Linked DNA regions of Homo sapiens: region 1 is linked to region 2. The links come from fine-mapping of genetic effects on gene expression. A gene starts in region 2. The other region holds a variant in brackets. All regions are shown on one strand. Distances are between the middles of the regions. Region 1 overlaps FRMPD4 (FERM and PDZ domain containing 4). Region 2 holds the start of FRMPD4 (FERM and PDZ domain containing 4).

Evidence for each region. PIP is the estimated chance that this variant, and not a neighbour inherited with it, causes the effect.
Region 1: its variant is fine-mapped to the expression of FRMPD4 in fibroblasts (GTEx, PIP 0.97).

The regions. Positions count from the first base shown.
Region 1 is chrX:12,406,587-12,418,537 of GRCh38, forward strand. The region is part of intron 1 of FRMPD4 (FERM and PDZ domain containing 4); the gene reads left to right. Among named protein-coding and RNA genes, the nearest start is that of FRMPD4-AS1, 37 kb to the left of the region's middle. The variant G/A (reference allele first, on the strand shown) is at 5,619.
Region 2 is chrX:12,132,761-12,144,711 of GRCh38, forward strand. It overlaps FRMPD4 (FERM and PDZ domain containing 4), which reads left to right and starts at 5,713. Exons shown (of 17, transcript NM_001368397.1): 1 at 5,713-6,252. The coding sequence starts at 6,212.

The DNA.
Region 1 (11,951 bases), 270 kb after region 2:
GATATGGGCAATCCATATCAGAAGTCCTCTTCTCAGGTTTACAGGTAGTTACTTAGCTCAGAGGCTATTTCTCAACTTTAGTCCCATCTAACTCTGCATTGTAGCACTCAGTGAAGCTCCAACCAACCATGAGCTTGGATTGGAATAAGCCCCTTTGTTGCTGCAATTCTATGTGTACTCAAGTGTGGTGCAAATAAGTAAAATATGGCTTATGTGTTAATTTCCTATGGCTGCTGTAACAAATTACCACAAATGTACTGGCTTAAAATGACAGGAATTTATTGTCTTACATTTCTGGAGGTCAGAAGCCCAAAGTGGATTTCACTGGGCTAAAAGCAAGGTGTCAGGAGGGCCAGTTCCTTCTGGAGGCTCTAGGGGAGAATACATTTTCTCACCTTTTCCAGCGCCTAGAGGCTACCAATGTTCTTTGCCTCATAGCTCCAAATCACTCAGACCTCTGCTTCGATCATCACATCTCCTTCTCTAACTCTCACTCTCTTGCCTCCCTCCTTGACTTATCAGGATCTGGTGATGGCACTGAGCCCACCTGTATACTCTGGGATCATCTCCCCATCTCAAGATTCTTAGTTACATATGCAAAGTCCCTTTTGCCTTGCAATGTACCATATTTACAAGTTTAAAGGTTAAAATGCAGACATCTTTGGGGGCTCTTATTCTGCCTATCACAGCTTGAAAGCGACCAAATATGACATCAATTGTGCTTGATGCTGGAACTGGTCACATACTTTATTCTATTACTAGCCGTGGAACATGCCACAGAGCTTGCGCACCAGAGTCAAAGGACCTGAGTTTCAGTTCTGGCTCCACCATCTACAAGCTGTGTGGACATGGGAAAGTCACTTCGCCTTGCCTCAGATTCCTCTATCTGCAAAATAGGCATTCCAATAACACCTCCCTAGTAGGGTGACTGTTGAGGGCTATAAATGAAATAAGGTACTTAAGGCAGTAAACCTAACACCTGACATATAATAATTGTTTAAGATACACTAGCTATTGATGTTGTCACTCATGGAGCTGTTACAAGAATTAAACAGGGCAATTCATAGGTCAGTAGACTTTTTCTGTAAAGGGCCACATAATACATATTTTTAGCTTTGCAAATCATGTAAGCCGTCACAGCTACTTAACTTTGCTCTTATAGAACAAAAGTAGCTATAGACAATATGTACATGAGTGAGTGTGGCTGCATTCCAATAAAACTTTTTTTGTAAATATGAGCAGCAGGACAGATTTTGTGTGCACAGACCATAGTTTGCCAATCCTTAATCTAGAATATTGTGATTCGGGCCTGACTATATATTGTTGTCGACAGCAAAGCTTTTAAAAAATGATAATAGTATATCTTCGTTGGTAGGCAGGTCTATGCAAACCTACCCCCAAAGTTTGAGGTAGCAGAGAGACAAAAGAAAGAGGCTAACATATCCAGTTTCTTAGAAAGAGACATTTAATAGGCACTCACAAACGGAAGCCATGTCTGTGTCTCGAGTGGTGGCTAGACAAGATGGTGGATCCCTATGCCATTATCTCCAGACCCAGGGCTTATATACCATAGGGAAAGGGTGATTCGGAAGGGATATGTAGGACCATCGAAGTATAATAACATCAAGGTTGTTTGACCTAAGGGTAGGACTTACATACTAGATGTGTTTTCTGTTAAGAAGCAATTTTTACTTGCTTTGGTTCCATCCAAGATGGAGCTGCTTTAGCCTTTACAATATCACATCTAATTCTCAGTTTTCTTTTAATTAAAAATATAATTACTCTTAGTTTTCATTTCTGATTTCAGATTAAATGCCAAAAGACACTGCTTTGTACATATTAAGTTTTCAATTGCACTTTGTTGACAAATAAAACAATACCTGGCTTCACCTCAGCCCCAGTGAATCAAAATTCCTGGGGGCAAGGCCTAGCTAGGCATTTGTTTTTGTTTGCTTCTCAGAACAAGAGGAGGGGCTGCCACATACTGGGCACTTGATCAGTATCTACTGAGTATGAGTAAGGAAATGTGCAACACGCCATCAGCACAGCACCCAGCCCATACTGAAGCTCAGTAAATGGTGCCCAATCATTTGGGGTCTTTTGATTGCAAAGAACAAAAACCCAAACTGGCTAATTTGGCCAAAATAGGAAATTATTAGAAAGATATGCAGGCACTCAAACAATTCAAGGAACAGATGTATCAGCAAGGACAAGAACAAGGGCAGTTTGCAAGGGCTGACCTTGTTCAGCAACTCAGGAAGGCTTTGCAAGGATTCTTCAGGAGGATAATGACATCAGCCTTTTTCTATCTTTCTTTTCTTCCATTAGAGAGAGAATATCCCCCCCTTGGCTAGTAGAGAGTGGAACACCCTGACTGGCAAACCTCACCTTCACATGACTAACAGGGAAGAGTTTGTATCCAAGGCAAAAAATTGAGAGGTCTTACTAGAAGAAGGGGATAGAGGCAGTGCACTCAGCCATTGATAACTGGTTGTTGTTTTTGTTAAGACAGCTTGTAATGAGGTAACATAAAAAAGTACTTCCCACAACAGAAGGCATGTAATGGATGCTCAAGCCATTGCTCTCTGGTGGATTTCAATACAGCACCTTTTTCAAAAATATAGCAGCGGTTCTCAATCGGGTGATTTTACCATCTTTGTGGAGACCTTGTTGGGGGCAGGTCACTACTGGCATCTAGTGACTAGATGCCGAAGATGCTGCTGAACACCATATAGTAAAGTATATGAGCATTTGTTATGGTGCTGCAGTTTTCATTTATTCTAGCTAAAAGGGTTGTGCTTTCTCCAGCTGCTAATCTATTTATCTGTGTGCCCCGCACTCTTACTTTAGAGATCAAGTTTGATGGAAAGGAGGCACATTTGACTGTGTTCCTTTAATTGAAGACAATAGAACTTTGGGGAGATTCTGGAGTTGAAATTAGAAGAGAATAAAGCAAAGATGTAAGAACCTAAGGACACATTTCTGAAATTTACCCCTATGAGATTACTTCAGAATTTAACTTGCTAAAAATAGATGAGCAGAAGAAATGAAATTTGAGAACATTCTTGTTAATGAAATGCAGAAGAATAGTTTAATGGTCAAATAGAAATGATTTCAAAATAAATCCAGTTAAAACTAATGAGTTTTATGTTTTTCAGTTTTACTGAAGGAATTAGTCCATAAAATGAAAACCATCATTAGCAAAAATCATTTGGTATAATGACATTTCCGTTACTGTTCGTGGGGGTAGGGGCAAAAAGGTACCAAGTAATATCACCTTTGAATTCTGGTTTTTATTCTAAATTTTATTAATTCTAAAAGGTGCTCATTAAACATTTTTCTTCCCTTTTTTCTCAAGTATTCAATAGTCCTACAATATGTGAATATCACCCCTTTTTTCTTTCCTGAATTTTAGGAAAACAGGGTTTTAAAGTATCTTAGTGAAGCTTTATGTCAGTGCTGATTTGAACTTCCAATTTAAACTGCAACCTTTTTTGTGAGTGGGGAGAGCATCAGTCAGATTAATTGTTTTATCAGTTTCTGACACTTTATCATCACTGATTATTGAAGACTTCCTGATGTGGCTGAGTAACTCATTCATTCCCCTTTATCCCCCTATGCCACTCCCATTTACACGCCCAGGTAATTTTTCTACTGAGTTTAGTGTGAATATTTCTGTGTGCATTCGTTTTTGCAAGGGTGTATTATTGTTTTACACACATTCATTTCAATTTGCATAAATCTTTTTGTGCTATATGTTTCATTGTGTGTTTTTTCTGAGCCTGGGGATGTTAAGATCCGTCTGTGTTGCTCTGTGTATTTCTAATCTGTTTTTTTTCCAACTGCCACCTCATGCTCCATGGTGTGCTGCAAACTTGGTTTCTGAGAGATAACCACTTTGCACCAGTAACTTGCAGTTCTGCTTTTGCTCCTTTTATTATGGAGTCATAAAAGCGTAATGAAAGAAAGAGCTCCTAGCTGTGAGTAGCAGCTAAAATGCCAATTTCAGGTCTGTCAAAATTGATCCTGCCCACAGTCCTCTAAAATGCTCTTACTTTTAACCCTGCTGAAAGAAAAATCTCTTTTCTTAACCCCCAACTCTTCCTAAGGCTATTTAGCTTCTAATTTTGCTGACGCGGTTACTTCCACCAAGTACCACTTAAATATTAAAGTATAAGTAGTTGCCGTTCCTTCCTTATTACCTTTATCAGACCCTCTTCATCTTATCACGGACTTAAAGAAATGGTTTTTGAATTGTCCTCTCTGTCCTCATTGTCTCTTCTAGACTTAGAGTTCTTTTAGACTTAGAGATATGTAAAAATCATGTATTACTCGTGACCATATGTAAAAACGGATATATAAGCAAAATAGAATTGTTAAGGTATTCCTAAAACTTCATCGCATTCAGAACCCCTTCTGAGTGCCTTTTTGACTCAGAATCACTGATGTCCACTTTTGTTCACATAGCAGTTGTTCATACAACTGTTCAAACAACTGTGCCATCAAAAACATTGGTGATGCAGCATTCTTAGGAGCTCTAGGAGTTCCCACTATTGTCTCTGAGATTTTCTTCCAAACTCCCAACACCCACTCTTCAAGTTTTGACTCTGGGACTTTTCTTGCTTAGCCTGAGATAAGCCACGCTTTTGTAAGTATCTTAGTAGCACATGGCTACTATTTTCCTGTCTTAGGTCCCGAAAGCATTTGTCCCTTTGCTAGCAGATATGAAAATGTGTTCACTTCTTCAGCAATGAATATTTGCTTTGCTGATATGCAATTCACACCCCACTGCTCTGTTTCCACGCTTTTCTGTGTACCAGTAACTTTCCATTTCAATATTGAATCATGATGTAATCTTTTGGAAGACAATTTAAATGGGATTTAAGCTAAGCATTTGTAGTATCAGCACTAGACGTAATTCAGTTGAGGTGAGGACCATATAAATAGCAATGAGTACATTGTTCACACTTGTGCAGGACAAACTGTTGCTTTGTGCAGAGCAATTTAAAACACCATTGATTATAAGACATCCTGTTGTTAAAGATGCTAAAGCGTGGGAAATGTGCATCTTGTAAAAGACGAATGCAGAGGTAGGTACTCAGGATGCAATATGGTGGCTCCATAGTCCATCCGAGACCTGAGCTATTTCTGCCCTCTGTTATTGCATCCTTAGCACATGGCTTCCATCGTCAGTGTCACTGCATGGTCCAAGATGACCTAGTAAGCTCCTGACATCATATCTAGGCAGAAATGAAGGAAGTCAAAAAGGGCAAAAAGGCCAAGGGTCTACAACTCACTGGATACCACTGACTTGAAGGGAGGCTGCCTGGTAACTACAGTCTTTTACTTGGGCAAGTTTGTCCCCTAGGAAAAAACCTGGAAGAAGGAGAGAATGTCTGCTGCGTAATCAACTAGGAGTCTCTTCATCATATCCTTTTGAAAGCCTCAATTCCTGTGCAGCCTGATTCACAGGCCACTTCAGCCTAATCATGTGATGATTCAATGCATAATGGTTTGTGACAAATTTTAGCATTTTGCTCTTACCATTATGTGTGATTCAAAAGTAAGCACAAATCTATAATAATTGGTATTTAATGTGACTAATTCACTTTTCCCTA[G/A]TGAGTCTACAGATTCCTTGAGCAGATCTGTCTTCTAAACCTTAGTTACTTCTCCCACACAACCACCTACCCCATTGCCCATTGTCTGAATTATCTTACACAAAACAAATGCTCCATACATGGATTTGACGTCATCTTGCTTCTGTGGCCTCAATAAGTGATTGCTGCTTCCAGATGATCAGTATCTGAGGTTCCCCCTTGGTAGCCAATGAGGAATTTCATAAAAGCAGCAGCTTGAGAAGAGGACATTTTTAGAGTTTGCTTATCTCCTTTGGGAAACTCTTAATCCATATTCTGGCAAGCATCAGGATACTTTTAGGAGTGATGTCTAGTACTTCTTAACTGACTTCCTAAGATAATCACTTCTGGATAAAACACCTCTATAGCATGCAGATTAAATAAACTCAGCCACAGCCTGTTGTGAGATTCTTAGGGCCATGCCTGATAATGGCAGCAAAGGTAGAGGCATGGATTTTTCTGAGAGTAAAGACTCAGTGGTTCCTGGGAGAGGAATTTGTGTTTGTGGTTGGTGGTGGTTTGCACTTCATCTCATAGGCACATAGTGTACAAAAGCAAATAACTGCTGATTTCTCAGTCTGAGCCTTTCTGGTTGAATCTGAATCATCTTGAGTATGAGCATCAAATGTTATAGAACAGCTTTTGTATCGGGAACATCAACAAGGGTCCTGGTAGCAGGACATAGACATAAATATCTAATAGCATTGGCCAATGCCTCCATGGGTAGTAAAAATAATAATACTGATAGTCATAGTAAAAAAAAAAAACACACATTTATGGCACTGTATGTGCCATGCACTTTATGGACATTAATTTGTGCAGCCCTGGCCACATTTCTAGGGCTACACCACATCATTGTATGCTAGATGACTTCCAGCAGCCAGTCTCTGCATCTCGGAGGGATTTTTCTGAAACTGTTTAAAGCCGGTATGCTTTTGTCTGGGAGCACTTTAAAAATGATTGACATGAGTCGGTATATAGATATCCCAGTTCCTTTGCTCCTCAGATGGGATATTTCAGACATGTGAGTTTTATACTATTCCCAGAATTTCCTGGCAGGATTAAGCTCCAGTCACCCAGTATGGTAGCTGGCTGGATAATCCATTCTTTATTGACTGTTTGTTTTCTCTTCCCAGCATAGTTTCCTTACCCTTGCACAGGAATCTTTGTATTGGGGTCTCCTTCTAGGGAAATCCAAACTAAGACAAATATTAACATCAACCCCGTGAGTTAGATATGATCATTACATTTATTTTTGCAGACAAGGAAATTGAAACATGCAAAGGCAAAGGAAGAGGCAGAAGTGTTCAAACCCACGTTGTGAGTCTGGTTTGAGAGCCTGCATTCTAGCTACACCAAGTAAATGCTACAGGAGCTAAGTGAAGGAGTGCACTCTGATGGAGAACAGCTGGCCCAGTGGTCTATAGATTCAGTTACTTTTCTAAAACAAGAATGTCAGGTCCAATGTACAAAGAGAACGTGTTATACTGACTATTGCATTCATGACTAGGTTCCTGGAACATTGTGGGGCAGCCTTTAAATGTGCAAATTCTTGTGTTTGAGGACCTGGTGTGCCTACCAATTAAACCACTTGGAAGGTTGTTTTAAAATCTGGTGCCAATTTGGGGATGTTCAGCCCTTCCAGCCAACAACCCTCCAGAATTGTCAGCAATCTAAAAGGCAATATTTCAGTCTTCTATTTCTTTCAAATTCATTTAGTGTCTAGGTGATAATTTTTTTCAATTAAAGCCCATAGGGCTATGGATTTACTGTTATGAGATGGTGGCCTTCCCTGTTAAACCAGTGTTGGTCTGTGTGACTATAAATAGGGATTTCCACAGTTTTATATATCTTGGCTAAATGAAAGGAATTTAAATGTTATTGCTACAAAGCATTCTTTCAGAAGCACTTAGTGATCATTTAATATGCATTGCTTCTACCTTTCACATTAATATCCTCATGCAGTAAATCAGATAGGTCCTCACTAATCCTATCCACACAACACACTATGGTTCATTAACAGATTCCTATCAGTGTAACTTTGATCTGCCCATTTTCAATTTTTGAGTTGTCTACTTTCTGGCAGATTACAGTTCAAAAGGTCTATCATTGATTCAACATGAAATTTCATTATATTTGAATCAAAGACTCATTGGAGTGACTTAAAAAGCTTTTTATGAAGTGAAAAAGTTGTTTCTTAGCCTCAGTTAATTTATTTTGTTATGTTATTTGATCCCAAAGTTCACACAAAACTAATTAAGTCTCAATTCAACAATGATATCATCCTGAAAATGCTTTGTGTCAGTATGCAGATGCTTGAGACGTATTTTTATATTCTTCTATTACGGACAGGACTAAGGAATTCTGGAACCCAAGGTTCTGCTTATCTTAGGTTTCGGAGAGCCATTAGTATATACAGGCCTTGAAAGCCTTCATCATGGGTTGGGATTTTAGAGAAGAGGGAGCCCAAAAATAATGAAAGAGCAACTTCAGTAGAAGAGAGAGGACCTGACATTTATTGAGAACTCATTATGTTCTGAACCTTATGGTGGTGCTTTACATATCACTACATCTTTCCCCCAACTACAGAGAGAGATTAAGTCATTTTCCCAAGTTGGTTACAAGAGAGACTTTTTCAAACACAATTCTGTCTGACTCCATAGTTCTACTTTTACACGTGATCACTACACTGCATTGAAAGCTTCAATACTAAGTGGTAGAGTTTTTCTTTTGTGGAAGGATGGGAGCTGATCATCTTTTTGGTGGTCCTTTAGATAACACCATGAAGGAAATTGTCTAGAGTTCAGGCTGCTGCTGACATTTTATCTAGGTGGTGAGCACTACCAAGATAAGGAGGGTGTTGAGGGAATTGCATTTGGGTCCTGGTGTTCCATGTAAGCCATTCTAGATGACATATGTAACTCTTGGCTTACCCAAGATTAATTTAACATTATTGATTCTTAGTTGATTTGTCTCCCTTTGGAATCATCGTGGAGGCACATAAATCCTGAGACTAAGAGGGTCTTCGTTGTAAGTACAGCCCTACTGAGCATCTCTGGAGGTGGCCAAAGTTGCATCAGAAAAGCAGTATTGCTGGGCAATATATGTTGTTTTCAAAAAGATAGTCCTGAGCCCTGCAACCCTTACCTCCTCCATCCATCCTCTCCTCCCCAGTTGGAAAAAAAATCTCATTTCTTTAGTTCTTAGTGTGAGGAAAGCAATCTGATTGATATATTTGAAAAAATATGATTAAAGGATTTTGCACCAGAATTCATCTTCCAACACCCCCTTAGGTTTTTCTATCTCCTTTACTGTTTTAGTTTTGACAACAATAATAGGGGGGATGAGATTGATTCACAAGGCTCTCACCAATACTAAAATTGTATGACTAACACCCAATTGCTATTTAAATATGATTATTAATATTATTAAAGACTTGGGATTATTTCCTGTGTTGTGTTTGATTATAATGCCCAGCATTATACATGATATATCCAGAGTCTTCCTGGTTTATTGCTCATGTAGCAAAATGCTGCCTCCATTGATCAGGATTTGGAAGAATGTTGGTGATTATCTCCTGAGAATAGTGTATTCTTTCACTTTGAAATATGTTTCTAACACTGCTGTTTACGGTGATTCTGATTATTTCAAGGCCATGGTATATTTGTATTATTTGCGATTATCAGCTGATGCTGAACTTTCAGAAAATTTGCTAATTATCAAGAATTCTTCATGACAATATGAGACCTTTGGGCAGCACATAAGATAATTTTAAAGTGAAAGAACTAGTCCGTCTCCTGCAAAATGATGCAATGCCAAAAGCAGGCTGTTAAGGAAATGCTAACATTTAGTGAGCATCTATTTTGCTCTGAATGTTTCCTTTCCTTCCCTCCCTCCCTCTTTCCTTCCTTCTCTTTCTCTATTTTATGTTTCTTTTTCTCCTCCCTTTCTACCTCTTCCGCCCTTCCTCCTCCTTTCTTCCCTTTCTCCTTCCTTCTTTTTTCTTTCTTTCTTTTTTTGGATATAAATAGTGATTGAGCAAGGACCACAAAGCAGCTTTCTCTCCTCCTTAAATTCCTTAAAGGAAAGTTTGTTCTTAGAGGGGCATGGCAGATTTCCTAATGAGCATGCCCTCACCTGGGCTTCCTGGCCATCAGTTTCTACTTCCACAGCAGTTGTGGGAATCCATTGTTACTTTGTTAATTAACAACTTGTATGGTGTAGCCTTTGAAGGCAGGGAGCTACTTCTTAAACACAGTTCTATTACTCTCTAATTTGTGGCATTAATAATCCGTTCTTTTTCGATTTATGTAAGATCTTTTCCTCTTAATAGTTGTGGCATTTTCTCTGAGATAAATTTTCATAAGACTCAATTCCAAGTTGTGATTTTCAAAAACAGGAGTCGTGTGGTCGAAGGATATTTCAACTTGTGTCTTATGACTGTCCTTCATTTAGCCTTTTGCCTCTTTAGAGATGGGACATATGATGAGAGCTGATTTGTTTCCCTTGTGGGCAAGGAAAAACATTTTTGAAGGTATCTAGCATGTTAAAAATCAAAAAATGCTTCCTCTGTGTCTTTGTCTGGTTGTACCTTTCCTTTAGCCACTTTACAAAGGAAGTCACACCATACATTTTGTCTGTCTTTCTTTAAAATCCTTTATTTTGGGAACACCAGAAAAAAAATTTTAGAAGGTATTCTCTCATCTTTGCTTAATCTCTTTCCTTAGTCATCCAGAGACTATTCCTACTTAATTGAAAAAATTCAATTTAATTTATAGATAAGGATAATACCTTTGAGATTTAAAGGCTCGGCTCAGACCTCTTCCGGGAGGGCGTGTCTGACTCTTATGTGTTCTATAGCATGAGTGCATACTCTAATATTTCTTCAGTCGATTCATTTATCTCTTTATACATCTGCCATCCCATCAGCCTATAAGCTACTTTTTGCATTGCCATCAGATACCACCATACTGGACACAGTTACACTAGTATCACTTCAAAATGTTGCTAGATATTTCTATTTAATATATTAACCAAGGAAGCACACATATTTCTATATAATAAATTTAGTTTTGGCCCGGTGCGGTAGCTCACGCCTGTAATCCCAGCACTTTGGGAGGCTGAGGGGAGTGGATCACCTGCGGTCAGGAGTTCTAGACCAGCCTGGCCAACATGGTGAAACCCCATCTCTACTAAAAGTACAAAAATTAGCCGGGTATGGTGGCAGGCACCTGTAATCCCAGCTACTTGGGGGGCCAAGGCAGGAGAATCACTTGAACCCAGGAGGTGGAGGTTGCAGTGAGCCAAGATTGCGCCATCATACTCCAACCTGGGGGACAAGAGCAAGACTTCATCTCAAAAAAAAAAAAAAAAAATTAGTTTAAAAATTTGATAACTTTATTATCAGTTTTTTTTATTATCTTGATGATCTATTATCAGTGTAATTCATTTCCTTTGTAATTCTATGTGCTTTTATTCATTTTATTCATTTAAAAACATTGTTCTGGCCAGGCACGGTGGCTCAAGCCTGTAATCCCAGCACTTTGGGAGGCCGAGGCGGGCGGATCACGAGGTCAGGAGATCGAGACCATCCTGGCTAACACGGTGAAACCCCGTCTCTACTTAGCCGGGCGTGGTGGTGGGCGCCTGTAGTCCCAGCTACTCAGGAGGCTGAGGCAGGAGAATGGCATGAACCCAGGAGGCAGAGCTTGCAGTGAGCCAAGTTCGTGCCACTGCACTCCAGCCTGGGCGACAGAGCAAGACTCTGTCTCAAAAAAAAAAAAAAAAAAACAAACAACAACAACAACAAAAACATTGTTCTGAGAAGGGGTCTACAGGCTTCACCAGACTCATGGGGCTCGTGACACCGAAAAGGTTCAGAACCCTTGCTGGAATAACGTGTTCTAAAATTCAGAAACACTTCAAAAAAGTTTGAGAGGATGATTTTACAGCCCCTCAGTATGGCTGTATGGCTGTCCACTTACATTGACTATAATTCCCTTGCCATCACCATAGAGACAGCTTGTGGACTGGCTAGTGCATGAAAGAGCAGAAATTGGGTGACACTGAGCTATATTCTAGGCCCAGCCGATGACTCAGGGATTTGAGCATCCATCAGTGTTTCTTTCTTTTTTTTTTTTTTTTTTCTTTTTTTGAGATAGAGTCTCGCTCTGTTGCCCAGGCTGGAGTGCAGTGGTGCAATCTTGGCTCACTGCAACCTCCACCTCCTGGGTTCAAGCAGTTCTCCTGCCTCAGCCTCCTGAGTAGCTGGGATTACAGGCGCGTGCCACCAATGCCTGGCTAATTTTTGTATTT
Region 2 (11,951 bases):
CAGCTACGTGGAGTCCCTAGTTACAATGACAAGAACAGTTTTAATGTAGGGTGATTGTAAGGGTAAAAAGAAAACATGGATGGAATAGATTCAAGATACAGTAGGAGATAGCAAATGGAGAACTTTTGGGAGAAGATATGCTATAAAGGCAAGCAGAAAAATGGGATTTAGCTGACAGGAGATGTGGTGGGAATTAAGAAATATTTTAAAGGTTGGATAAAGAGCATCATGTTTGAATGCACATGGGAATGGTCCAACAGTTTGATTAAAAAAAATACTGATATAGGAAAAAGAGACAGTAAGTGCTAGATTAAGGGCCTTGAGCAGGCAAGAGAGAGGAGAATCACAGGAGGGCCAGCTTTCAGAGCAGTGGAGTTCATTAAAAGGAACAGGAGGAAAGGCAGAGTACTTTAGCCAGTGGGAGGTAAAACCCTTCTGGTTTCTAAAAATTTATTTTATTTTATTTTATTTTATTTTATTTTATTTTATTTTTTAGAGATGGGGTCTCACTATGTTACCCAGGCTGGTCTCGAACTCCTGGCCACAAGCAATTTTCCTACTTCAGCCTTCCAAAGTGTTGGGATTTCAGGCCTGAGCTACTGCACCCAGCGAAACCCTTCTGGTTTTTGTATGTTCTATATCTAGATAAGGGAACCAGGGCATTTCTTTTCTTTATTTTTTTCATATACGGTCTCACTCTGTTCCCCAGGCTGGAGTGCAGTAGCATGATCAGAGCTCAATGCAGCCTCAACCTCCTGGGCTCAAGTGATCCTCCCACCTCAGCCTCCCAAACTGTTGGGATTACAGGCGTGAGCCACCACGCCTGACCGAACTAGGGTATTTCGTAAATAATACAAATAAATGAGTTTTCCCTTATTCCTCTCTTTCCCCACCTCCTACATCTAACCCATCAACTGTTCCTATTCAAAACATATCCTGAGCCTGGCTACTTTTCACCACCTCCTTGTCATGTCCTCTCTGAGCTGCTGCCAGCTCTTGCCTGGATTCTTGCAACAGGCTCCTAAATCAGTAGTTTCCCTGCCCTCACACTCACTTCCCTCAAGAGTGGTCATTCAAAACATAAGTCAGATTTGGCCACTTCCATGCTAAAAATCCTCACATGGCTTCCCGTCTCATACCAGCCAGACAGCTGACACTGGCCTACTGTGCCCCATGTGATCTCACCCTTCTTGCCCCTGCAAATTCGCTCACTCTCACTTCATTTAACGCGTTACTCTTCAGTCACAGTGGCTGCCTTCGGATTCTTCAAACATACAATCATCGTTCCTGCCTCAAGGACTCCATCCTTGTTTTATCCTTGCCGTTCCGTCTGCATGGAATGCTCTTCCATATGAATTTTGTGTGGCAGCCTCCTTCTTGTTCTTCATATCTCAGTTTAAATGTCACCTCCTTATAGAAGTCTTCCTGAACCACTGAATAACAAATAGCCACCTAGCCACTCCCTTTCCATCAGAAGAATTTTAATTCTCTGCACATTGCTATCTGCTATTTTCTTGTTCACTACAATTTCTGATTTTGTTGTTTATCATCTACCTCCTCTTCATAAGTTCTATGAGAACAGAAACTTGCCTTGTTGCCTAGTCTATTTCCCAGTGCCTACAGTGGTGCCTGGTACATGGGAGACACTCCATAAATATTTGCTGATTGAATGGATACCTTGCTGTTATTTATTTACTTCTGTTTTCAGGACTGAGACCAGATGGTCGAGATGCTTCAGTCCAGCTGAGAAATGCTTGGGGCTCTCTCTATTGTAACTTGCAGCGAAAGAACCCTCAGCTGCCAACCTATATGGAACATCTGGCCCAATAGCAGATTCCTAACACCAGCTTTAGATAAGGCCTTAAGAATGATGAAGCTCCTCACACTTCCCCCTGAGAATCCCCCGGGGCATAAAAAATGCTACAGCCTAGGGCTTTAGTAACTGCCCAGGCAACAAAGTGTTTGATTTTTAGGCAAAAGTGCCTACCTCTGATTAATCCAAGCGAATGTTGGGCCTCCTAAATAGTCATCTTACAGGCTGAAACTTTTCCTACCAGTACTGCCAAGGCTGCAGACAGCTGTGGAAATCCTTCTAGAGCTAATATTCATGTGCCTCAACTCATATGTAGCCAACTGTAAACTGGTGCCAACTTCAAGTGCTCATTTTGTGTAAGGTAAAGATGTATTATTTCCATTTTACAGCTGAGGAAACTGAGTCTCAGAGAAGTTATAGGACTTGCTCTGGATCTGGTGACCCTGAGTCTTTTATTCATGAGTACTTTCAACAGTGTTTGAAAGTGTGTCTGGTTTTCAGAAATGACCAAATGTCACTTGAACCTAAGTAAAGCAAATTAAGTAGATTCTCAAGGTTGGATAATACAGTTTCCAACTAGTAAATCCCTACAAGATCCAGAAGGGGCCTTAGAGATCATCCAGGTTAATAAGAAAACTTCAGAAAACCACATATGTACTCAGGATCCCACTTTTTTGGCTTTTATTTGTTTTAGGCAGATCTAGTTCATGCTAGACAAACCTATCCTAACCTCTGCAGCACACACCTGGCACAGAGAGGGGACAGAGCTGAGAGACCAACTACTCCAATCTCTGCCCTTCTGCCAAGATGGCTTAAAGATATAAACACTCTGTGTTAGCATGTTTCAAGGGAGCAGCTTTTTCCATTGTTGTATTAATGAGAAACAAAGGAGGAGGGGTGGAATCTCTTTGCTTTAGAAAACAATATCAATCCATTAGAAAACATACTAGATAATTACTATATGAGAGGTGTGTAAAGACCTGTAGAAGTCAGTCATTTCCCTTGGTAGCTATTATGCTGTGGAGAGATGGCATCTGCATCATTCATAACCGTAGCGCACAAATTGGCACAGGGAGAAGGCCAACAGCAAGCTGTTCCAGGTAGACCAGATGTCTCCAAGGGAGGCTGTCTCTCTAGAAGTAAACACAATGTCTATTTCCTGTCACTTTCACTGTTGAATAATTAGATATTTGGTATCTGGAATAATTATTGATAAATAGGGTAATCCTTTTAAAAAGAGCATCCCAACTGTTCTCTTCTCAGAAGGAAGCACTTTTTCAAAACACATTCTCCAAAGGCACTGTTTTATCCCCTTTTCCCAATCACGAGCTGGTCTTGTGCTGCCAGATGTTGACTCAGAGATGAGGGAACGTGTCGGTGGCCACTCTTTTGGGGGAAAGGTAGAAAAGGTGAAGGGGGAAAATAACTGGAGAATGTAAGAAGGCCTTTGTTGCCATCATTAACAGTCAGTCCAAAGGAGGTTGAAGGATGCTGGGGAAGTGGATGGGTGGGGAAAGAGACAGATGTAAGCCACGAAGTCATACACAGATCAGTACTCACTGGGGATGCTTGGCCAGCTTTGGTTTGGCTGTGAATCCAATGGGCATATGATTTGTTCGTTCAACAAATATTTCTTAAGTTCTTTCTACATCTGGGGAAGTGGTCTAGGCATTTGAGATCCATCAGTGAAAAACAAAAGCAAAACAAAACAAAGATCCCAGCCCTTGTGGAGCTCCAGTGGGAGATTCAGACCAAAAAAAAAAAAAAGAAATCCTAAAGATAAAAATAAATTATATAGTGTGCTAGTGGGTGATAAATGCTATGGAAACAAGAAAAAAGAATAAAACAGTTAATAGGGACTCGGAGTCCAGGGTGTGAGAACCTTTTGCAATTTTAAATTGGCTTTCTAGAGGGGGCATTTTGGAAGTGGTATTGGTGCATACATTTGACAGGGTGGAGAAGCCGGCCATGCAGATATCCCAGGAAAGAGCATTCCAGGCTGAGGGAACAACCATTGCAAAGAGCCTAAGGTGGGAAGATTACCTGTAGAGTTTGAAGGATAGCAAGAAGTCCAGAATTGCTGGAGCCCAGTGAGTGTATGTGTGTGAGAGAGGAGGGGCTCGGGGTAGGGGATGAGGAGGGACAGAGAAAAACGGGAGAGGGAAGTGGGCAGTAATAGTTGAGGTAAGAAAGATCAAAGGATACGGGATCTAGGGTCCTGTTGGCCCTTGCAGGAGCGCAACTTTAGCTTGACGGACAATGGGGAGCTTTTACATATTTTAGATCAGACAAGTAGCCTTATGTGATCTACGTTAAAACACACACACACACACACACACACACACACACACATACACACACACAAAACATCTTTTTGTCTGGTATGTTGAGAATAGATTATGGCATAAAAATAAAAGATTTCTAAATATATTGCCTTATATGAAAAGGTTGCGATGAGACTCCAATGCAAAAAAAAGCTTTAAAAATTATAAAGCACAGTGCAGACCCAAACTATAATTATTTTACAAACAATAGAGTTCAAAAGCCAAGGTCCCTCTCGCCCCTTCCGATCCTTGAGTAGTAACTGCGTTCATGCAATTAAACTAGCCTGTTTAATAGAAGCTGCAGGAAAACTGATAACTATGTATTCAAAAACATGTAATTTTATGCCTGAGTTTTAAGTCATTTAGATTTTGCAGATTGCTATTTATTTTATGTTCAGTTTTTGAAATAAATGCTTAAAAAAAACGCTTTAGTACTAGGCTTGAATACTGAAGACTTTAAATATAACAACAGACCAGGAGAGGAGCAGAAGTGTGGGAACTTTAAACCTATTTCTTTCTTAATCCCCTCGGAGAGCTAGACTGGAACACTGGCTGGATCTTCCAACATTTCTGGGGGTGCTCTCTGTTCTTTGCGGTGGCCCTGCCGCCAGGTGAACGCTGCCGGTGGGAGAGCACACACTTAGTGCGGCCAGCTGACCTTCACAGTCTGGGGGGAAATTTTAAAGGATTGTGGAGAAGAGGCCTTGAGACTTCAAGAGGAAGAAGAAAAAGGGGCCCAATGAAGCCTGAGCCTCCCAGGAGGTAGAACTGAGTTAATGAACAGGGCTGATTATCCAAGGTAATTATGTAAAAGAGAAGGCTAGGAGGAGTTCTAGATGGCTGCAACTTGGAGTTTACTCTGCCTAAGGTGAGTGTTTATGTTTCTGTGTTTTTGCTTCTCCGGCAAGGTTTTGTTTTGTTTTGTTTTTTTCTTCCCTGTTCCCTTCACCCAAGGCTCAGTGTGCAAAAGCAGCTCGCTCTGCGTGGCAGACCCCATTCTAATCCTTCTCTTTCCTTAGATTCTGAGCCCGGTTAGAATTAGCCTCCGCATCACGGGCTCCTGGGACCCTCCGCTCTATGCTCCTCGAGGAGGGAGCAGCTGTGTTCATCCCCCTACCCGCAAATGCCTCCGGTTCTTATTTGGCAGACACTCCCGCGGTGCTGCTGTCCAAAGACACACCTTCCCAGCCAGCCCAGTGGTCACGTCTCGCCCCAGCGATTCGGGAGAAGCAGTGGGAACTCTGAGCTCCCCGAATCGAGCCCGCTGCGCCTGGCATCTCCCTTCCCTTCCCCTTGACAAACGACCCAACCTCAATCATCCCTGCTCCTTCCGAACGCTAGTTTTGTTTACGGAGCAAACCGAGGCTTTGAGCAACCTGCGGTTGCACGGCTCTCCTTCGGCTTGGGGAGGGAGGGGTAGCGTTCACAGTTCTCCAGTGTGCCATAGACTGTTAGACCAGATCCTTCAGATCTAGAGGCACACGCAGTGGGTGACAGGAGAGTGCCCCCTCCCCCCGGGCGGGTGGGGGTGGGGAGAGGAGCAGGGACTCGGCTTGGAGAAGGAGGCAGGGAGGCAGCTGCAGTGCTGCGAGGGGTGCGTGCGCGTGTGCCCAGCTCGCCTGCCGTCTCCCGGCTCCGTCTGCGCTCCTCGGTGCGTGGGGCACGAGGGTCCGAGGGCCGGGAAGCCAGAGCAGCGCCTCTCGCCCAGGCCTCGCTTTCTCTGGACGCCCGGCAGTCCCCGGGGCTAGAGCGCACGGGGCGGGGCGCGAGACCCGGGCCGCGCTCCCCGCCCCCGCCTCTTGCGCCCTGCCTGGCTCCCTCTCCATTGAGTTTTCCTGCCTCGGGTGCCTATCAATGGTCCTGCTCGGGGATGCACACGCAGCTCGCGGCCGGAGGGGGGTAGCAGCCGCCGCCTCCAGGTGCAGGTTCTCTCCGGCCGCCGCCGCCACCCGCTGTCGCCGCGACTCGAGCCCCGGGCGCACTGAGGTCTTGGCCATGGGGCTGCGGAGGCTGCTGTTGCTGGCGTGAGAAGGGGCGACGGAGTTGTCGCGCTCGGGGGTCCCCAGCTGCCTGCATGGATGTCTTCAGCTTTGTGAAGATTGCAAAGCTTTCGAGGTAGGGGCTGCGCGGGTTCCGTTTGCACCCAGGGCCGCTGCCGCGGGCAACTTGGTGCCTTATTTTTCGGGAGGCTGGGTAGAGGCAAAAGCTGGAAAGCGCGACGGGGCTTAAGACAAACGAAGTGGCCGGGGGCTTCCACGTTCAACTTATTTCTCACTGGCTGCTGAGGCTTGTGTAGCGGCGGGTGTAGACCACACACAGAGAGGTACATACATGCCCTCACCAACACACCGACATTCACGACAGTTTGTTTTCCCTAAGGAAAAGCCCCAGCGGTGTTTGGGGTCCCATGTATAATTCAGGGCTAAGAGAAGATGGTTGTAATTGCTACTGCTAGGGAAACCCAGAAGTGCTTGGAGCTTGGGTGCCTGCCTTCCAAGCTGCAAAGACCAAAAGTGCCGCCTTCCCCCAACTCCTAAATTACACCTCCACACCTCCACAAAGTCAGCTCCTAGATTGACCAGGTGCTCCCAACGGTAACCTAGATGGCGAAGTCATGTAGATAGAAGAGAAAGACTTTCAGCCTTTTTTTTTTTGGGGGGGGGGTAACTATATTCTTAAGCCTCGAAAGATTTAGAAATTTTCTTCTAAGTGGCCATGTTGTTAAAACAGTAGCTAAAACTAAATCATCGATTCAGACATTTTTGGGTAGTACTGATAAAAGAGGAACATTTCCACGCTTGGGCCGCCTAGGTGTTGCCTGGCCAGAGCACTCCTCCAGGTCTTCTGCCCTGCTTATGCTTCCAAAGTCTTCGTTTGAGCCACAGAGTAAGGTTTGTGCTGCTTGCTATGTGGCATTAATTGGGAAGAGCCCAATAGGAGTGGTCTTAGAAAACCATGCCCAACCTTCTCTGCCCCTGGAGCTCTTTATAGCAGCTACCACCAGGACGTAGGAGGTAGACAGTTGGGTTTTTCCAGGATGTAGCTTAAAAACTTACTTGCAATATGGACAGAATAATCCCAGGTTTTCCTTCAGTCCTGAGTGTCAGAGTGAGATGTGTTGATTGCATCAGGCAGGGATGAGCAGCTTCCAATAGTCAGAGGTAGAAACGTATGTTGACTTTGCTTTATTAAATTACATTAGACCACTTCAGAAAGGTTCTGTTTGGATGTTGCCATTCTCTCCGACATCTACAGGTCTTTGTTCTGCCTGCCCATCTCCACCTTCCCTTTCTACTAACATGGGTCAGTCTTCATGCCACTAGCAGATTTCCCCAGGCAGAAAGGCCCAGTGCAGCTTACTCTAAGTAGACTGGAGATACGCAGTTGATGGGTAAATACCTGTGTCTTAGAGCAGCTCAGGAAGAGGTGTTGTCCTGCAGATCAGAAGACTGATGTGTTAAGCAGTGGATGATTGTGGTGTGGCCAATTGTTTGCTTTCAAGCTGATCTCATAGAGGGCCATTGCTTCACACCACTATTCTATTAACTTCCTGCATGCTTCTGCCTAGGGCTAGTTTCTAAACAGCTGTCAAATATTGAACCATGGTTGGGAAGCAGCTGTGTGCAAGTTTAGAGGCTAAGTGGTACCCTCCGTGTGATGGACAGAGATACTGCTAAAGGGAAAGGGAAGTTCAACCAATAGTATAGTTCAAAGTAACCAGGATACTTTTTGGTGGCCTCAGATGCTAAAAACAGTTTAACAAAACATCTAGAGCCTCGATTTAGTCCTTAAACTTAGGAACTTTGGAGAGGACAGTGTCATGTGTCAGTGAAAAGATGTTTCATATTCTTTTTACTAAATTCTAGGATGCCTACATGATATTCACAAATCTGAGTTTTTGCAAAACTCAAGCAAGGCTGTGGGGAGAGTGGTATCTTATTTTAAAGAGAGTTTAAAATTTAGTAAATGAGTGTGAGTTTCACTTTCTATCCTTAATGTGATCCAGTAGAGTGTTTATTCTAAAGACAGAAGGTGCAAATGTTCTGAGCTGATGTGCCGATTAAGAAATCTTCCATCCATAGAATTCTTCTTTTTCTTTAGTGTGAGCCCGAGGATGGTCCCCGTGCTGAGATAGAAGTACCTTTAGAGGGTCATCAGCATGTAAAAACACATGTTTGCAGTTGCTTGTTTCTGCCTTGGGAGGAAGAAAGTCTTGTATGTGTTTTAAACACTGTTACAGAAAGCAAGTTCTTTTCTCAAAGGTGAAGTATGAAAGTGCTTATACTGCAGGATTTTCCTGATTTCAGAATGGATAATCTTCCTAAAGGATTTAGCTTTGATCAGCATGGTTACTTCAGTGCTTAAAATTCTCTTGGTTTAGAGGCAAACACATGTAGTTACCCTGGGTACCTGGCCTTACCTTTGGTTCCTACAAACTTGAGCTTCTAAATGTTAATTCAGAAGGCATATCTTGGAAGTGATATTTGCTTAGTGTCCTATCTGTGAGTAAAGACAGTGTAATTACAGAGAATTCCAAGAGAATATTATTCGACACTGGAATAAATAAACTGCATATTTTGACTTTTTAGAGTGTCTACATTTAACTATTCGTTTCCAGAATCTATACCCTTTTAATCGTGGGAAAAATCAGAATTGACAGTGCCCCTCAATAACCCAGTACCATTAAAAAAAAATTGCTGCCAAGTGTTGGAATTGCTGGTAAGTAGTTGGCACCCTTTACATCATCAGTTAGAGTTATGACCCTTGATTGCATCCTTCGTGGGTGGCACAGTGTGTCATGGTTCTATCTGAAGATGGTTTTTCCCGTTCTTCTAATTTTCTGGTTCTTAAACTGCTTGATAGTTTACATGCAGTTTTACTTCACTGTTTCCTTGGTAACAGTTCTATATTATTTTCCATCCTTGTAGATGAGAGCATTACAGATGATTGCCTTATAAACCAGTAATAGTATAAAAACAGGCATATATTTTTATTGTTACTGCTCTTTGTATTGACTATTTTATTTGTAAAGCAGATGCATTCTTTCAAATGTTTATAGAAGAATGCAGTCCAGTAGAAAAACATATGATTATGCCCCTTTTGCCAGAGGGAGATGATTTGAGATCCAAAACTCATAGGGATGTTATTAAATTGAGTGATATGTTCATAGATTAAGTCCCTGATTTGGCTTCTTTTCTTTAAGCAAAACGGTAGACTTGATGATAATGATTGAGTCCCCACTGTTGATATGATGATTTCTTATAGTAGTAGGTAAATTTGGGGAATGCTTTACTTTGCATTTTCTTATAGTTGCATGGGTTATTTTGTGGTATATAGCAGTGACTAATATCTAATATTAGAATGCTAATTTTCTTACAAGTATCTTATATTTGAGGAAAAATACAAAATACATATGTATAGTTTCCTTAGATTTTTATGTCAAGTCCATTTAGATACTACTAAACTTCTGTCTTTTACCTTTATCTTATTCAGAATTAAATATTTCCCAGGGAAAAGGGGAAGTTAAAGAAGTAATGCAAAAGGTCAGGGTTTTTCCCATATCCCCTATTTTTACTGAGTAATTGTATTAATATTGCTGATAATAGTGAGCTCTGGAGGCTAGCAATGAAAAAACCCCAAAGACTCTGGATTTGAATTTTATTAAAAATGCTACTTGCTCATCTTCTGAATCCTTTCTAAGTTCTGCTGATTTTTGTGACTGTCAGGAGGTGAAATGATGAACAGTTTCATAACAGAACTAGATTCCTGTTTTAGGAATATTTAACTCTAGTTTCCCAAGAGTTGCTAGTTTGAAGCTGTGAAAGTCTAGTCGCTCGCAGTTCTGGGAAGAAGGCGTCTAGGTCAGGCTTTGTACCATTTCAAGCATCTCTCTCTCTCTCTCTTATTGTCTGGGGCAAGTGAGTTTCACCTTCTTGCTATCAGAATTTGGTACAGACTGACAGCTGCAGTGAAACTTACTTGTACTTTAAATGCATGACCTGGAAAGTCTCACTTTCTGCTTATGGTCCTTCCAGCTGTTCATTCTCCCCCTTTACATACACATACACTGTTCAACTTTAGTACTTTGTTATTTCATTTGAGGTTAACCGTGGAAGTTTAGCTGTAAGAGAATGTACATTATTGGTGAACTAGAAATGTATCTTTAAGGAATGAACTTGAAACCACTGGTTTCACACTTGGCTCAATAAGAAAACTCAAGACCGTTTAAAATCTTTGTTTAAGCATACCGTCCTGAAATCTACCACTGTTACCATCAAATGATCTTTAATCTTGAAAGCTAATCATAGCAGGAAAAGAAAATTATGAATAGGCTAAAACAGGGGTTGGCATACTGTGGCCTATGAGCCAAATCTGGCTTGCTGACTGTTATGGCATAGCCTGTGAGCAAAGAATGGTTTCTTTATTTTTAAATGGTTCAAAAATATCAAAAAAAGAATAATATGAAATTAAAATTTCAGTGTCCATAAATAAAGTTTTATTGGAACACATGTCCATTCATTTATGTATTATCTATGGCTGCATTTGCCTGACAACAGCAAAGTTGAATAGATGCCACAGAGACCTTATGGCCTACAAAGCCTAAAATATTTACTCTCTGGCTCTTTACAGAAAAAGTTAACTGACCCCTGGGTTAAACAATGCCTTTTTCCTGTTTTCTCTTCTTTATCATTAGCAGCACACATGTGGGCACACACATGTCAAATCGAGCATATTATAATAAATACTTGAATTCACTGACCCCTGGGTTAAACAATGCCTTTTCCTGTTTTCGCTTCTTTATCATTATCAGCACACATGCGGGCACACACGTCAAATTGAGCATATTATAATAAATACTTGAATTCACTAATGCACATTACCAGTTAATATAGACCTTATCTTTATTGAAACTTCTGATCTCAAATTACTTCTTGAACTGTTGGAAACTGACCATTAGAAGTGGACATAATTGTCCTACTAATTTGTTGCACTTGGAAAAATTATGCATGCTTATTCTTTGGTCACTAAGTTGACCTGATATTTTTGGGGAGCTGGAGAGTTGCTTGTTAAGGTGATGTTTGCCTTCCATAAATATCCAGTTCAAAATGTATGGAAAAAGAATGGGTGATACTACTTGTATAGCCTCAACCAATGTGTGCTGGTGAACTGATAATCAAGTCAACAGGAGAATGCCTAGTATTTCCTTACAGTACACTTGAGCCATCTGGTCCTAATGGCTAATGACCTTCACTAATCTGTTTCCAAATGGAAATAAAACCAGATAAGTGGATTTAGTTGTAGTCAGAGGAATGGAGGTAGGCTGTATCAATTTGGAGTTGAGTTTAATCTAACTTTCCTATGATTTGACTGAGAGCATTATAATGAGAAATCATAGACTACCTTTAGTTCTTTACAGCAAAAACATATATCAAAAGTATGCTGCCTTGCTTCTGAGTAATTTAGGTCATTATGTACTTAAGCTCTGAAAATTATCTTGAAGAAATCTAAGCCTTAGTTTTAGATAACAAAGTTAACATTCCCATTTTTTTTTTTTTCCTGGCAAAGAGATGAGAAGGGTTTTCTGCCAGAACTGTTCTTTCAGAAATATATTTTCAAGTATGGTTTACAGAATTTGGCATAAGATAAATAGTCTATACTAAATAATTAGTGAGTGAAGTCATATACAATTCATTCTAACATTTGTTGCAAACAAATTGTCATATTTGTTTAGCTGAACAATTACCATGTCAGTACTTCTTTATTGAATATAACGGAATACAATGTACATGTTAAAAGTAAATAGCCTGCTCTTG